Linked DNA regions of Homo sapiens: regions 1 and 2 are each reported to be linked to region 3. The links are microRNA targets in miRTarBase. Many come from high-throughput screens and were not tested one by one. Region 3 holds a microRNA gene; each other region holds the end of a gene's coding sequence.

Region 1 (3,000 bases), not on the chromosome of region 3:
CAAAAATTTATATACCAACTTTCATTTAAAATGTCTATATTCATAACCACAGAAAATAGGCATCAATCATCCAATAATATAGATAGAAAGAAAAAAGCAAAATAGCTAGAGGCTTAATCCAGGTATCATAGTAAATAGATAACTTATTTTCTAGGTGACCAATTTAGAAGCAATCTACTCAAATACATCCTGAGGTTTGAAAAATGTTATTAAATCTTCAAATAGGCTGAGCGCGGAAGCTCATGCCTGTGATCCCTGCACTTTGGTAGACTGAGGCGGGTGGATCACCTGAGGTCAGGAGTTCGAGACCAACCTGGCCAACATGATGAAACCCCGTCTCTACTAAAAATACAAAAAATTAACCAGGCATGGTGGCACCTGTAATCCCAGCTACTCGGGAGGCCTGAGGCAGGAGAATCACGTGAACCCAGAAGGCAGAGGTTGCAGTGAGCTGAGATCATGCCACTGCACTCCAGCCTGGGCAACAAGAGTGAAACTCCGTCTCAAAAAATAAAAAATAAATAAATAAATAAATAAATCTTCAAATAAACCTACCTAGTAACACAACGATTATAAGTAACTTGGGTAATTACGGCAGACACACAACTACCATCCGTGCCTTGATCTGCCCTGCTGGCCCCCTGGGCTGAGCAAGTCAAGGTTTGGGTGGGGACAGTATAAATCAAGCATCTGGGCAGGGGCATGGTGGCTTACACCTGTAATGCCAGCACTATGGAAGGCCAAGGCGGGTAGATCACTTGAGGTCAGGAGTTTGAGACCAGCCTGACCAACATGGTGAAACCCCGTCTCTACTGAAAATACAAAAATTAGCCAGGTGCAGTGGTGCACGCCTACAATCCCATCTACTCAGGAGGCTGAAGCAGGAGAATCACTTGAACCTGGGAGGCGGAGGTTGCAGTGAGCCGAGATCATTCCACTGAACTCCAGCCTGAGTGACACAGTTAGACTCTGTCTCAAAAATTAACTAATAAATCAAGCGTCTGGCCACACATCTAAATATGTGACACTAATTTAAACAGAATATGCTACCATAAACCAGGAAACCAGGTGACATATTTTCCACATTTTTGGAGAAAATAAAAATTTTAAGTAAATTCTCTATTCCGAAATAGAATAGAAAAAAACATATACAACAAAAAAAAAGTTGCTCAGGTGATAGGGAGCTGATAGCAAAATCTTAAACAAAATTTACTGCTACAAAATTAAGGTTTACATAAAATTTTAAATAACATAAACACAATAATTGGCAAAATATTTTTGTTCAATGGGTTTCAAAAATCAAGAAGGTTCATCTGTCATCTAGGTATGCCTGTTTTCTGATGGTTATAGCTAAAAAATTCCATAAAGACCACCCAAAACATGTAGTTTTTAGATTGGCATTCCATATTACGAACAGGTGAGGAATATTCTTAAAGGTATTCCTACAAAGCTCACATGGTATTTACCACAGGCCATGTATAAATTGGGCACTCAAGAAGCATCTGATGTAATAACAGATGAGCTACTTCAAATTATTTTAGAGCAACGCTTAAAATATTTTCTGGCTGCCCAAATACCATTGTTAAATACAATTAGACATTTTTGCTCTTAAACTGATTAAAATAGTATCATACATCTTTTGAGCAACCACTTTTACAGAATTTTGAAATTCAAATTTCATTTGAAAGTCATTTATGATGTGTAAGTCACATTAAAGTCAAAGCACTGCTCAGCTGTCTTGTAGAAACTTTTGAGTCCCCAGAATTCAGACTCTAAAATGAATGCAGGCAGGCCAAGGAAGTCCTAATACTCTGTGGTACAAGTAGGGACATTAAAACAGCCTAAAGGTCTATAGCAGGGAATTATGGAGGAATACAATTTGAGCAGCAGAATTTTATTTGACAGTCAAACATGAGGGGACTTGGCTATTTCACATATTAAGGTCTACAGATTTAAAAATGCTGACTAGAAGTTCTACACATTTTAAAATATTTAATAGCGGCTGAGCGTGGTGGCTCATGCCTGTAATTCCGGCACTTTGGGAGGCCGGGAGAGGGGATCAAGAGGTCAAGAGATTGAGACCATCCTGGCCAACATGGTGAAACCCCTTTTCTACTAAAATACAAAAAAATTAGCTGGGTGTGGCGGTGTGCGCCTGTAGTCCCAGCTACTTGGGAGGCTGAGGCAGGAGAATCACTTGAACCCGGGAGGCAGAGGTTGCAGTGAGCCAAGATCGTGCCACTGCATTCCAGCCTGGAGACAGAGTGAGACTCTATCTCAAAAAAAAATTTAACGGCAGAAAATTTCTATTTCTAAAAAGGAGAGAGATAACTATATTAAAAAATATTTGCATTATGTAATAATGCTTTTTCCCTGTAAGTAAAAAATTACCAGGACTAAGTACCACTAAACACATGCTCAAGTCATAAAAAGCACTGGTATTCTGAATGTACTACATGAGAAAAAAGACAAATTAATATAATAGTTCAATTCATCAAATTAAATGTTCCATTGACCTCAAATTTTAAAAATTTAGTAGTGTTTATTATACACAGTCTTCTAATAAATAAAAGAGGACACGTAATAAAGATTCAGTTTTCAGTAATTTTCAATCTTCAAGACTAACAGCCTTAATCTTTGATTGAGTTTCTAAATTCTCCACAATATCTTTCAGATAATCTTCATCTTTTAAAAAATATACATAGAATTCTCTTTCCATTTGATGTAATTTATTATTTGCCAAAGTTTTTCTTTTTGTCTTCACATCAGCAAGAATATCAGTGAGGAGATGATTTAGCTTATTCAGTTGAGATTCAACTTTATGAAACTGCTCTGTTAACTCCTAAAAAAGGAAAATAAAAATAAAAATTAAAACACTTTATTCCTAATACCAATTATAAAATTAAAATATAATTTACATGGAAAGACTTTAAAGGACTTAATAACTTCCCGCAATTTTAGCAATAAATAAACCTCGATTTAAAATCCATAACAGGTTTA
Region 2 (3,354 bases), not on the chromosome of region 3:
TCACGGAGGTGAGTGAATCCGCTCTGATGTCTGACCAGTGGCTCTTGGCCCCTCTTGACAACCAGGGTCCTTCTGTCTGTTTGTGCCATGGCTCTGAAGAGGGTGGGGTGCCTGGCCCTCGGCAGGAAGCTGACTTAGCTTCCTAGCTGGAGCTGCTCAAGTTGGGCCAGTGCTTACCCTGCCAGGGTGTGTTGGGGCTTGAGCTGTGATTTTCTGTGTTGCAGGATGGCTTCTGTCTCCAAGGATGGTACATGGAAACTGTGGGACACAGATGTGGAATACAAGAAGAAGCAGGACCCCTACTTGCTGAAGACAGGCCGCTTTGAAGAGGCGGCGGGTGCCGCGCCGTGCCGCCTGGCCCTCTCCCCCAACGCCCAGGTCTTGGCCTTGGCCAGTGGCAGTAGTATTCATCTCTACAATACCCGGCGGGGCGAGAAGGAGGAGTGCTTTGAGCGGGTCCATGGCGAGTGTATCGCCAACTTGTCCTTTGACATCACTGGCCGCTTTCTGGCCTCCTGTGGGGACCGGGCGGTGCGGCTGTTTCACAACACTCCTGGCCACCGAGCCATGGTGGAGGAGATGCAGGGCCACCTGAAGCGGGCCTCCAACGAGAGCACCCGCCAGAGGCTGCAGCAGCAGCTGACCCAGGCCCAAGAGACCCTGAAGAGCCTGGGTGCCCTGAAGAAGTGACTCTGGGAGGGCCCGGCGCAGAGGATTGAGGAGGAGGGATCTGGCCTCCTCATGGCACTGCTGCCATCTTTCCTCCCAGGTGGAAGCCTTTCAGAAGGAGTCTCCTGGTTTTCTTACTGGTGGCCCTGCTTCTTCCCATTGAAACTACTCTTGTCTACTTAGGTCTCTCTCTTCTTGCTGGCTGTGACTCCTCCCTGACTAGTGGCCAAGGTGCTTTTCTTCCTCCCAGGCCCAGTGGGTGGAATCTGTCCCCACCTGGCACTGAGGAGAATGGTAGAGAGGAGAGGAGAGAGAGAGAGAATGTGATTTTTGGCCTTGTGGCAGCACATCCTCACACCCAAAGAAGTTTGTAAATGTTCCAGAACAACCTAGAGAACACCTGAGTACTAAGCAGCAGTTTTGCAAGGATGGGAGACTGGGATAGCTTCCCATCACAGAACTGTGTTCCATCAAAAAGACACTAAGGGATTTCCTTCTGGGCCTCAGTTCTATTTGTAAGATGGAGAATAATCCTCTCTGTGAACTCCTTGCAAAGATGATATGAGGCTAAGAGAATATCAAGTCCCCAGGTCTGGAAGAAAAGTAGAAAAGAGTAGTACTATTGTCCAATGTCATGAAAGTGGTAAAAGTGGGAACCAGTGTGCTTTGAAACCAAATTAGAAACACATTCCTTGGGAAGGCAAAGTTTTCTGGGACTTGATCATACATTTTATATGGTTGGGACTTCTCTCTTCGGGAGATGATATCTTGTTTAAGGAGACCTCTTTTCAGTTCATCAAGTTCATCAGATATTTGAGTGCCCACTCTGTGCCCAAATAAATATGAGCTGGGGATTAAATACGAATAAGACATGGTTTCTGCCATCAAAGATGGCTGGTGGGAGAGAGAGATACACCCTTATTAAGTGCTTTGTGTTAGTTTATTCATAGCTATTGTTATATATGTCAAGGCAAGAGAGGACCAGAGCAGGACAGAGGCAATGGGTATTGAAGTTGAAGGGGTACATTTGATAAGAGAGTCGGTATTGAGAAGTTTAAATTTGTGAATTTGAAGGCTGCGTGGGTGTGGCAGGTAAGGGAAATGAGGTATCTGGGAAGGCTTGAGTGTAGGCAAATTTATTCATCCCAAGTCAAACTCTTGATCTCTCTCACGAAAACTATGACCCCCCCTGGTTGCCCCTGACCTCTCAATGTTGGAACAAGCCACAACCGTGGAGTTATCCTTGATGACTCCCCATTCATTATCCCTTCTGTCCCACCACCACAGCTGTCATCTGTTCACCAGAACGTTCTTTTGGTTACACTCCATGTGACATCCTGAGGCTGTTGCTTCTCTCCAGCTTTTCTGTTACCATCCTGGTCCTGGCTACTGTCACCTAGTGGGCCACTATAATATGGCTTCCTAATGGATCTTCCTGCTTCCTCTGTTGCCTCATTACTTTTCTATATAGCAGAATGATCTTTTGAAAATGTGAACCAGATCACATTATTCCCTAGTTAAAACCCCCCAAGGCTTCCCATCACACTTGGAATAAAATCCAAAAGAATTTTTCTAAACCAAAAATAGTAAAAACAATTTTTTTTTTCTGACAATCTCTTGTCACCCAGGCTGGAGTACAATGGCGCAATCTCGGCTCACTGCAACCGCCGCCTCCTAGGTTCAAGCGATTCTCCTGCCTCAGCCTCCAGAGTAGCTGGGATTACAGGCATGTGCCACCACGCCTGGCTAATTTTTGTATTTTTAGTAGAGACAGGGTTTCACGATGTTGGCCAGGCTGCTCTCGAACTCCTGACCTCAAATGATCCACCACCCCCCTTGGCCTCCCCAAGTGCTGGGATTACAGGTGTGAGCCATCGTGCCTAGCTAAAAACACTTAATCCAAAATTCTTACCATGGCCTGCAAGGTCCTGTGTAACCTGGCTTCGTCCCCCCTCTAAATGCTATGAATGTCAGATGGGCACCGTAAATGTGTGAAGGGTCAGTTACCTGGGTGTAAGGCAGTAGAAGGTGGGGACAGAAGTGAGCTGGAGGGCGGGCTTGTGTCCTGCCTGCAGGATGGGGGGTGGCTGCTACTTATTCAGGAATCCAGCAGAAATTGCTTCACAGAAGCTAGAAGTGAGCAACTTAAATAACTAAACACTATCTGGACCAAACAAAACACTAAGGTCGGCCCGATGCAGTCCACTACTCTCTTATTGGCAGCTTCTGGCTCACTGTTGAACCCACTGGAATGAGAGCACCACCGGGCAGACTCCTGGACCATCCCACTGTCAGCTCTGTGGTCCAGGCACAGTACCTGGGACAGTGTAAGCACTCAATGTGAAACTCAAGCCAGGGGCAAGCCACAGACCTCCCAGTATCTTCTCCGCGCATCTTCCCACTCCCAGTCTCCATTGTGGTTTTGTATGTTCCTAACCACAGACTTTTGGCAATGCTGTGCACACAAGGCCTGAGGAGTATTTCCTTGGCAATTGTCAGAAGAATGAGACTAAAACACTTCCTTTGCGCACCTGTTCTTAGAAGCAGCTCTGGCATTACTCCCGTTGTGTATCCAGGACAGGAAGTGGCAGTAGAATGTTGAGTTACTGAAGTCAGATGTCTTCAGTTCCAGTTCCAGCTGGAGAGCAGATAGTAGGTCCGTTGACCTCTCTGAGCTTGTTTCCT
Region 3 (3,354 bases):
TATTTTCCATGTGACCCTACACGTCTCAGTTTTCTCATCTGTAAAATGGGGATGGAACTGCCTTCCCCTCAAGTAGGTCTGAGGCTGAGAGGGAATGATGCTGATGAAAGGTCTTAGTGAATAGCTATAGCTATACCAAATATTTATTTTGGGACTGGGTGTGTTGACTCACACTTGTAATCCCATAACTTTGGGAGACTGAGGCAGGAGGACTGCTTGAGGCCAGGAGTTCGAGGCTGCGGTGAGTTGTGATTGTGCCACTGCACTCCAGCCTGGGCAACAGAGCAAGACCCTGTCTCAAACATAATATAAATTTATTTCTAGAGCTAGCTCCATACAGAATTTCAAAGAACCTTGGGGCACTTGAGTACTGGCATCTATTTGTATACAAAACAGGATGAAACAGGATAAATCATTTCTTTCTCAATTTTTTAATTTTTTTTTTTTGCTGGGGGACAAAGAAGCTTGAACTTCTTATCTATCTACCTATCTATCTATCTATTATTTATTTATTTAGGGCTCACACCAAGCATTGGTTCCTCAGATACAAGTCAAAGATGAGGAAAATGGAGGCATTAAAATATTTGAAATCTGACTACAAAATGGCTGTGTTCTAAACGTCTTTGTTCCTTGAAAATTCATGTGTTGAAATCCTCCTCTTCAGAATGGAGGTCTTAGGAGGTGGTACCTTTGGGAGGTGATGAGGTCACGGGGGTGGAGCCTCATGAATGGGATTAGGGCCCTTATAAAAGGGTCTAGGGAGATTCCTCTCCCCTCCACTGTGAGAGGACATAGGGAGAAGCCCTGTCTATGAACCAGGAAGCCGGCTCTCACCAGATAGTGAATCTGCTGGTGTCCTGATCTTGGATCTCTGGGCTCTGGAACTGCAAGAAACAAATTCCTGTTGTTTAGATGCTTCCCAGTCTCTGGTATTTTGTTAGAGCAACTAGAACAGACTAAGACAGGTGCCAATCATAAAATATCAAATTTCTTCCCATGCTCAGAGTGCCACCAGCCATTTCTCCAATGGCTTGCATTTTCTACTCTTTCCAGAATTAGAGAGGGAGAGGAAGTCAGCTGAAGCCTGAGTCCTGTTAGGGCCACCTTGCTGTGTGAGTCACTGAAGTGTGGTTTTGCTGCTGTTGAGCATTGTTGGCTGGTTTCTGCAGATTTGGTAAGCCCCAGTCTCATTCAAAAGCCCCAAAAGTGAGACGCGTGTCTGGTCTCCTTGCTCCTGTTGGTCTGCTAGGCTTGTTCTACTAGGACACCTTTGGACACCTTCCCATGGGCGGTTCACAGAGGAAGATGCTGAGCTAGGGGTGTCAGGACGCCTCTAGTGAACTGGAAGTAGATCCCATTCCTTCCATTTCTCAAGATGCCTCCTCATCCCCAGTCCCCAAAGTGAATGACTGAAGTTTCTACTGCTCTGCAAAACCCAAGATAGGTCACCATTTTATTCCATTCTGATTCCCCCAGCAGACACAACCACCTGATTCCCCTTCGGAAATATTCTGCACCAAATGAAATCCGAGTGAGGTCATTAATTATGAAAATTCACAATGCGTAATTATAATAATTACTCTGATCACATAAACATTATACCACCATGAATAATTTAATAGGAATTGTGCTTTTGAAAAGCATGGCAATTAAAATAAAACCCAGGGAGGTGACAGAGACGATGCGGGAAATATATGCTCCAGTTTGTTCAGAGGAGGCTGTGCAGTCTCCAGAATGCTCACTCTTTGCCATAAAGAATCACTCTCGACCTTAGGAGGTTGGGAGACAAAGAAGGCAATGAGAGACCTGAGAGTTTACAAATGGGCTCCACTCCTGAGAAGTGGAGATCAAGAGTTCAAAGAGAGGCTGTTTTTCCCCTAAATAAAACAAGTTCAATCATCTTTATCTTTATCCCCCAGCAAAATAAAATAAAATAAAAAATCCTGATTGAAGAAGAAATGATTCATCCTGTCTGGACACCAATTCTCAAGTGCCCCGAGGTTCTTTGAAATTCTGTAAGGAGGTAGCTCTAGAAATAAATACAAGTTTTCTGGCCTCCCGATGGGTGGTGTGTACAACTAAGCAAAACAATCAGGGTGAAGGGATTACATTTTGCACTAAAAAGAAGAAATAAGACCAATTTACCCTGTGACTTTTATTAACCATGACAAAATCTTTTTTAAGTACCTTACTAAGTTTGTGAACAAGCAGCAATTTCTGCAATGAAACGGCCCCCTGAGATTAGGGAATTAAGTTATTTGGAATGGTTGGAAAGGAGAGTTTATACTGTGGAGAGGTGCAAAATGAGACCAGAGGGAGTTTGGACCCAGTTTTTAAAGAGGATCCTCTGTCCTCACTGACAGCAATCCAGGAGACACTACAGGTTCAGATTTGCACACTCCTTACCGTTCACAAAAAGCTGAACTATTATCTTGCTGTCCGGCTTTCAAATTTTTTGAAAATCAAGGTCTACTGTAAGAATCACATTTTACAACACAAGTTGGTGCTCGTGCTTGCATATACACACACACACATACACATACCTACACCAACACACAGAAAACACAGACCTACCATGTGAAATGTGCTCTATTAGGAATAGAATTTCTATGCTATTCTGTTTATGAAAGAAAACTGCTGACAGCAACAGTCTATCAAGTTAATTCCACTGTGTCATGATCCACAGTTCTTATTGTACACTTAACAGACACTTATGAAGTGCCTCATCTAGGTACTAGGGTACCTAGGTACTAAGTACACTTATGAAGTACCTCATCTAGGAATTTAGGTACCTAGGTACTAAGTACACTTAACAGACACTTATGAATACCTCATCTAGGAACTTAGGTACCTAGGTACTAAGTACACTTAACAGACACTTATGAATACCTCATCTAGGTACTAGGGTACCTAGGTACTAAGTACACTTAATAGATATTTACAAAGTACCTGCTGTGTGCCCAGCACTCATCTAGGTACCAGGGTTTCAGTACTGGCAACAGAGACAAAATCTATGCCCACGAGGAGCTTACATTCTACTGGAACAAGTTAGAAAAAACCATTGACAAACCCATTTCTTACAACTGCTGGGTGAGGAAGTTGGGCAGGGATTGTCAAAAACAGGTTCAGGTGGGGAAGTGTGGGCCTGTCTCCCTTGTACACAGCAGGAATCTCAGGGAGGCCGGCTTTGTTTCCAAGGCTTTCCTCTAAGTTTTGCCTTTCATTCTGTTTGACCACGATTCTTTTGACTGCAAGAAACAGAAAGCAAACTTGAATGTGCATAAGAAAAAAGTGATATTTTGTCAGAATTCAGCCAGAAAAACAAAACAAAACAAAATGCTGTAGTTACTGGAA

What was found. Region 3 holds the annotated microRNA hsa-miR-3612 (AGGAGGCAUCUUGAGAAAUGGA, at 1,363-1,384, opposite strand). A microRNA usually pairs through its seed, bases 2 to 8, with sites in the 3' UTR of a target mRNA and lowers its output. Matches are read on the target gene's strand: a 7mer-m8 pairs with bases 2 to 8, a 7mer-A1 pairs with bases 2 to 7 and ends in A, and an 8mer does both.
Region 1: miRTarBase lists HAUS3 as a target of hsa-miR-3612. Seed matches in the 3' UTR shown: 7mer-m8 at 2,207-2,213.
Region 2: miRTarBase lists TBL2 as a target of hsa-miR-3612. Seed matches in the 3' UTR shown: 7mer-A1 at 2,371-2,377.

The regions. Positions count from the first base shown.
Region 1 is chr4:2,229,319-2,232,318 of GRCh38, forward strand. It overlaps HAUS3 (HAUS augmin like complex subunit 3), which reads right to left. Exons shown (of 6, transcript NM_001303143.2): 6 at 1-2,842. The coding sequence ends at 2,609. All of the region lies in intron 2 of POLN (DNA polymerase nu), which reads right to left. Among named protein-coding and RNA genes, the nearest start is that of HAUS3, 11 kb to the right of the region's middle.
Region 2 is chr7:73,567,843-73,571,196 of GRCh38, reverse strand. It overlaps TBL2 (transducin beta like 2), which reads left to right. Exons shown (of 7, transcript NM_012453.4): 6 at 1-8; 7 at 225-3,354. The coding sequence ends at 690. Among named protein-coding and RNA genes, the nearest start is that of TBL2, 9.1 kb to the left of the region's middle.
Region 3 is chr12:128,292,135-128,295,488 of GRCh38, reverse strand. MIR3612 (microRNA 3612) reads right to left here and starts at 1,397; the gene lies at 1,311-1,397. The region is part of intron 1 of TMEM132C (transmembrane protein 132C); the gene reads right to left.